Linked DNA regions of Homo sapiens: region 2 is linked to region 1. Evidence: fine-mapped expression QTL. A gene starts in region 1. The other region holds a variant in brackets. All regions are shown on one strand. Distances are from middle to middle. Region 1 holds the start of NUBP2 (NUBP iron-sulfur cluster assembly factor 2, cytosolic). Region 2 holds the start of TMEM204 (transmembrane protein 204).

Region 1 (3,002 bases):
CTGAGGTGGGAGGGTCGCTTGAGCCCAGGAGGTCAAGGCTGCAGTGAGTTATGATCGTGCCACTGCACTTCAGCCTTGGCGACAGTTAAGACCCTGTCTCAAAAAAAAAAAAAAGCTTCTATCAATCTCAGTAATATCCTTACTTTGTAGTAAATCCGTCCTGATAATAAGGACAGGCTTTTCCAGGCTTCTCCTCTGGAATAAGACTCCAGCACTGGGCCAGGCGCCGTGGCTCACGCCTGTAATCCCAGCACTTTGGGAGGCTGAGACGGGCGGATCACGAGGTCAGGAGATCGAGACCATCCTGGCTAACACGGTGAAACCCCGTCTCTACTAAAAATACAAAAAATTAGCCGGGCGTGGTGGCGGGCGCCTGTAGTCACAGCTACTCGGGAGGCTGCGGCAGGAGAATGGCGTGAACCCGGGAGGCGGAGCTGGCAGTGAGCCGAGACCGCGCCACTGCACTCCAGCCTGGGCGACAGAACGAGACTCCGTCTCAAAAACAAAAGACTCCAGCACTCGGTTTCTAATCTGTCAGAGTTGTGCTGCAAGACCTTGCTGTCCGAGGAATGTTTTCCTTTTGGTATCGGACTCGAGGTCTCTTAGAAGATAAATGCGGCTCCCACTACTCAGGAGGGCCCACGGCGCTGATCTGGCGAACGGATCGTCCCCACTGGTGTGAATTCTGTCCCGCGCAACTTACACTTTTCTGAACACTGAGAGCGCCACTTCCACAAAGAACTTAAAAGCATGTGAGATTCTGGCGTCCGTCTTACTTTCATGACTGCGCGCGTGTGATTTATTTAGAGACAGGGTCTCGCTCTTGCCCGGGCTGCGGTGCAGTTGCAACCGCGACCTCCAGGATAGCGGGGCCCACAGGCGCCACCGCGCCCGCCTACAACGCGGTGCTCAACAAAGTTAACTTTAAAAGCTCCCCCAACTCCACGACTCAGGCCCTCCGAGATCACGGAGCTTCCACATCGAAGCAGGAGCACGCGGGAAACGACCCTGTTTAGAAAATGCCCGCGCCGCGGCCTCTGGCCCGGCCCAGCCACGCCGGCCGGTGATGGTCGCACCGGAGGCGCGCGACGCAGCGAGGCCGCCCCGGGAAGGGACGCGGCGGGGCCCCAAGCGAGGCCCTGGAGCGGCTCCGCACCCTGGCCCGCCACTCACCGGCCGCCGCCTCCATCCCGCCGCCTCCAGGAGCTCGCGGCTGCAGTCCGCTTACGCCCGCGGGCCGTCAGCCTCCCAGCTAGAGCGAAGGGCCTTCCAACCAATGGGCAGTGCGTGCCCGCCCGTGGCTCTTCTTGACAGGCCTAATCCTGCTGTCCCAGCCAATCAGCTTGCCGGAGGAGCTCTCGATCCGGTCCCGCAGGTTCCGGCGCAGACGATGACACGGACCTACTTTCCGGTCAACGCGGCCTGCGGTACCACCTCCCACCCGGGTCCAATGTGCGCGCGAGCTTTGTCTCCAACCGCTTGGGAACTGACCAATAGGAACGTTGGATTAGGACTGACAGTTCCTGAAACCTCTCGGCAATAGCTTTGTCACCCGACTCCCGCCCCCTCTCCCGAAGCTCCGAGACAGGTGTGCCCGCCCCTCGCCGCCGGAGCCAATGGGCGCAGGGGGCGGGGATTGTTTACGTCTCGCTCCGGGGCGGAAAGTGGGTCAGGGCCGGGCCGGCGGAGCGCGCAGCGGGGGCTGCAGGTGAGTGGCGGGGCACGGGCCGACGTCTCGGGCTCTGGGCGGGCGCGCTGACCTTGCGGGCGCGGCGGTAGCAGCGCGGCCAGGGCGCCGCCTTTGTTCCTCTCCGGAGGGCCGCGCCCGAGAGAGGCTTCCCCGGTGCCGCCGACTCCGGAACCCGCGCGCCCGCGGGAGGGAACAGCCAGGCCGGGCTGCCGCCGGGGAGGGCGGCTCCCGCTGCACACGCGCTCGCCTGGGGCTGGGCAGGGTTCGGCGGTCCGGGCGCCGCGATCCGCCCCGGCCTCCCTGGAACCCCACCCGGGGCCCAGCGGGCGTTGCCAGCCGCGAGCCCGGCGCAGGGGTCGGCCCTGGAAGGCTAGGCGGGAACCCCGGAGCTGGCGAGGGAGGTGCCAGGCAGGTGGCCTGGGAAGCGCAGACCTGGCCCTCGCAGCCTTTTGCATTTTATACCATAACAGCGGCCAGCGCTGAGCAGGTTTTAAGATTTGTGTTTCACGAGGAGCCCTGGCGGTAGCGAGCGGAGGGGAAGGCGAGCTGCGCGGCCCAGGAGACGGTGGCGGGAGGAGGATGCAGGCGGGTGCGGCGGTCGGGCCGGGCGTGAGGGGAAGGTGTCGGGGAGCGGTCACGGTGCTTCTGGCATGAGGAACTGGGAGGCCGGAGATGCCATTTGTCAAACCGGACGACAGAGGAGGAGCGAGTGGAGGTTTTAGATGCCTGCGGGACAGGCGGGCGGGGCAGCCAGGTTCGTGAGGTGGAACCGGAGAGAGGGGCTGGGATTCGCATTCCGGAGTCATGGGTGTCTGGGTGGCGTTTCACAGGATCTACCTGGGTTTTATTGAGCTGCTCAGATCCTGGAGTGAGGTACGGGCTCCTGAAGCGTTCTGGAGCCCTGGCTGGGCACCGGTGCGGCCCCTGCAGTCCCCACTTTGAGTGGGTCCGTGGCCCAGCCTGGAAGCTCAGGGCTGGGAGTGCTGTGAGTCTTCCTTTGCCCAGAGCCTGTGTTTTCTTCTAGATTCTTTCCACCATGGCCAGACGCCCCCGGAACAGCAGGGCCTGGCACTTCGTCCTGAGTGCAGCCCGCCGAGACGCAGATGCCCGGGCCGTGGCTCTAGCAGGCTCCACTAACTGGGGCTACGACTCTGATGGGCAGGTAGGTTCCAGCGGGCGAGGCGGACGTGGCTGGCCTAAGGTGTGGAGATGCCCTAGGCAGGCAGGCAGACATTACCTGAACACGGAATCAGTCGGAGAAAAAGATGCTTCTGAGGCTAGAGGACCAGTCCAAACCTGGGCCTGTCTCCTG
Region 2 (2,723 bases), 250 kb after region 1:
CTGGAGGAACGCAAGAGGTAGCAACAGGGAGGGGCGCCAAGGCTTCCAGCTGCCCTGAGATTGGGCTGCCTGGGCCACCTGTGGGTGTTGGTGGCAGCAGTTAGGAGGCCTGGAGGTGCAGAGCTGCGGCCAAGGGCCGGCTGGGAACTCCCTCCCCCGGGGGTGCTCTGTGGGCTGGACGCCAGTGATGGTCCCAAAGCACATGAGCGCCCGGCCCCACCTCCAGGGGCCTAAAGCCGCTGCCCCCGCGAGAGGTTCAGCACAGTAACGGGGCTGCGGCTCCTTCTTCAGCAGAGCAGGCAGAGTCTGGAAGAAGGGCGCCTGGCCGGAGTCACGCGGAGACCCAAGCCTCGGGCTTCCCATAAGACACCGAGTTCTGAGAGCCGGTGGAAGCTTTGAAGTTATTCATAGGCTTTGATCTTTTTAAAAGACGGCTGTTGGTCCCTGCTGGTGAAGGATGCGAGAGGAAGTGCGCAGTCCAGGCTGTGCGGTGCAGCCGAGGGCCTTTGAGTGGACAAGGGGGTTGAATTCCCTCGTGGGACCTTGTCCAAGCCACATGCCTTCTGCAAAGCCTCAGTTTCTTTGCCTGTGAAGTGGGGATGACATTCCCCGCTGAGGGTTCTGAGCGCGGCAGGTTGGGGATGGAGCTGTGTGGTTGAGGCACACGTGATGTGTGTTACCCCAGTACTCCGGGACTCCCTCGGAAGCCTGGAGCAGAGGCACTGCCTCAGAGACCAGCATTATCTTCAGAGCAGAAGGAGCGTCCAACCCCGAGTCTGTGAGGCTCTGCAGCAGAGACTTGGGGTGTCTGCGAGTCAAAACCTTGCTGACAGTTTCAGAGAGTCGGCCTTTGGGAGACCTTGTGTCCCTGTGCCGTGACTGTTGAGATGACCCCATGGGCTGTAAGCGCCTTCCTATTTATGCAGCCTCACACCTGCCACTCAAACCCCACGGTGCGGTGGCATCATTCTGAGCCCCTTCCTCTCCTCTGCAACCACTGAGCATCCCTGTCCCCTTCCGAGCGTCCTGGCCTCCCTGTCTCCTTTCCAGCGTCCCATCTGAAGCTCATCCCTGGGGATCCTGCTGCTGCTCTCTGCCTCAAAGACCCCAACAACCGTGAGAACAAAGCCAGAACTCACCCGTGTATTTTTAAACTTCTTGTTTATTTTACTCATGAGTAAAGAAAGAGCATTTTCATTTTTTTTTTATGTTCAGAGACAGGGTCTCTCGCTATGTAGGCTAGGTTCGTCTTGAACTCTTGGCCTCAAGCAGTCCTCCCGCCTCAGCCTCCCAAAGCGCTAGGATTACAGACGTGAACCACTGCGCCCAGCCGTAATAATTATTTTCAACCAAGGAAAAATGCCTTTCCTTGATTTGATTAATGTACCCATCTCTTAACTATGTGTAA[C/T]GGCAGAGAGGCCCCCCAAATGCCTGAGATGAATTCCTGTGTAAAAGAGCTGGAGGCAGATTCTGTGCTGAGCAGGAGGAGTGTGTGGGGCCACCACTCACCAGGGAGAGGGGGCCTTGGGGCCTGGTTCCCTGGGAGACACAGTGCCCCCTCCTGCCTGCCCAGAGGCCACGCTCAGGGCAGAGCAGGGGCCAGGCCTCCCCACCCGCTCACCAGGTCCGCGCCTAACATCTCCCATGTGCCCTCGAGCCTCGGCCACGCTGAAGGCATCAGGAAAACAATTGGACTTACGTTTGACGGTGCCTCGGGACTCCTGGAAGCCGGCTGCCTCGGAGCCCCAGCCCAGCGCCTCACAGTCATGTGCGTCCACCTGGCCGGCTCTGGCCCCAGGGCTCGGCCCTCCCCGGGTCCTGTCCACCAGCCAGCAGGACCTCCACAGCCCCACGCTGCGCCTGCGCCCATCCTCCAGCGTCTGGCACACCCAGTTGGAGGTGAAGGCCGCCACGTTGTTGAGGATGAGTGAGACCAGGGCCACCAGCACGGCCGCGGCCACGAGTCTCTGCACGGTCATCGCTGACGCCGGTGCCGCCGCTTATCCGGAGAAAGCCAAGTCCCAGTCCGCGGCCGCACGTCCAGGGAGAGCCGACGCTGCTAGGGGTGGCTAGAGGACATCACCACTCATCCTCGGGGCGGCGCGGGCGGAGGCCCATGGGATGGTCCAGGTGTGCCGCCTCTCGGCCCGGCCTTATCCTCCTTCCTGCACCTGGAGCAGGGCCAGGCCTGTGCTGAAGCTGCTCGCCTCGGGGCCCATCCCAGGGAGCAGAGGGTGGGCAGCAGCAAGAACCCAGGGCCAGGAGTGCGCCGTCTTCCCGGGAAGCGGAGGCCGGCCTGTGCCGCGCGTGCCTCTTCTCGCCTGCAGCAGTGGAAAACAGAGTCACTCGGGAGGCCGGCAGCAGTGGGAGTCGAGCCCGCGCCACACTCCTTAGCACCGGCCTGCTGTGAGTGCCAGGCTCCGGGCAGGGTGGCCGGTGTGGAGCGGGTTCACAGCTCCTCTGTGCTGCCTGGGCCCCTGTGTGGATGCCTCCAGGGCAGTTGGCCGGTCCTGGAAAGCAGAGTGGCTGCTGCAGGGACGCCCGTGTGCGCAGAGCTCGCCTTCCCTGGCTCTCAGCAGAGAGGAAATGGTTGTTTTTGAGACTGTTTTTGGTGAGCTGGAAGGCGTAGCCAACCGCAACAAATAGCGGCCCTGCCGCGGCAGCCAGACACCAACAGGATGTGCTTCCTGATGGGAAAGGCCAGGAGACTTCTGAGGCCCTGC

What was found. PIP is the estimated chance that this variant, and not a neighbour inherited with it, causes the effect.
Region 2: its variant is the best candidate, but not a certain one, in a credible set for the expression of NUBP2 in sigmoid colon (GTEx, PIP 0.56).

What each region holds. Positions count from the first base shown.
Region 1 is chr16:1,781,208-1,784,209 of GRCh38, reverse strand. It overlaps NUBP2 (NUBP iron-sulfur cluster assembly factor 2, cytosolic), which reads right to left and starts at 1,250. Exons shown (of 7, transcript NM_012225.4): 1 at 1,174-1,250. The coding sequence starts at 1,189. EME2 (essential meiotic structure-specific endonuclease subunit 2) reads right to left here. Exons shown (of 8, transcript NM_001257370.2): 8 at 2,508-3,002. It overlaps SPSB3 (splA/ryanodine receptor domain and SOCS box containing 3), which reads left to right and starts at 1,639. Exons shown (of 7, transcript NM_080861.4): 1 at 1,639-1,708; 2 at 2,715-2,852. The coding sequence starts at 2,727. RefSeq lists silencers at 308-534, 962-1,171, 1,672-2,031 and an enhancer at 1,312-1,461.
Region 2 is chr16:1,533,532-1,536,254 of GRCh38, reverse strand. All of the region lies in intron 19 of IFT140 (intraflagellar transport 140), which reads left to right. It overlaps TMEM204 (transmembrane protein 204), which reads right to left and starts at 2,589. Exons shown (of 3, transcript NM_024600.6): 1 at 1,700-2,589. The coding sequence starts at 1,979. RefSeq lists enhancers at 1,856-2,559, 2,560-2,723. The variant C/T (reference allele first, on the strand shown) is at 1,409.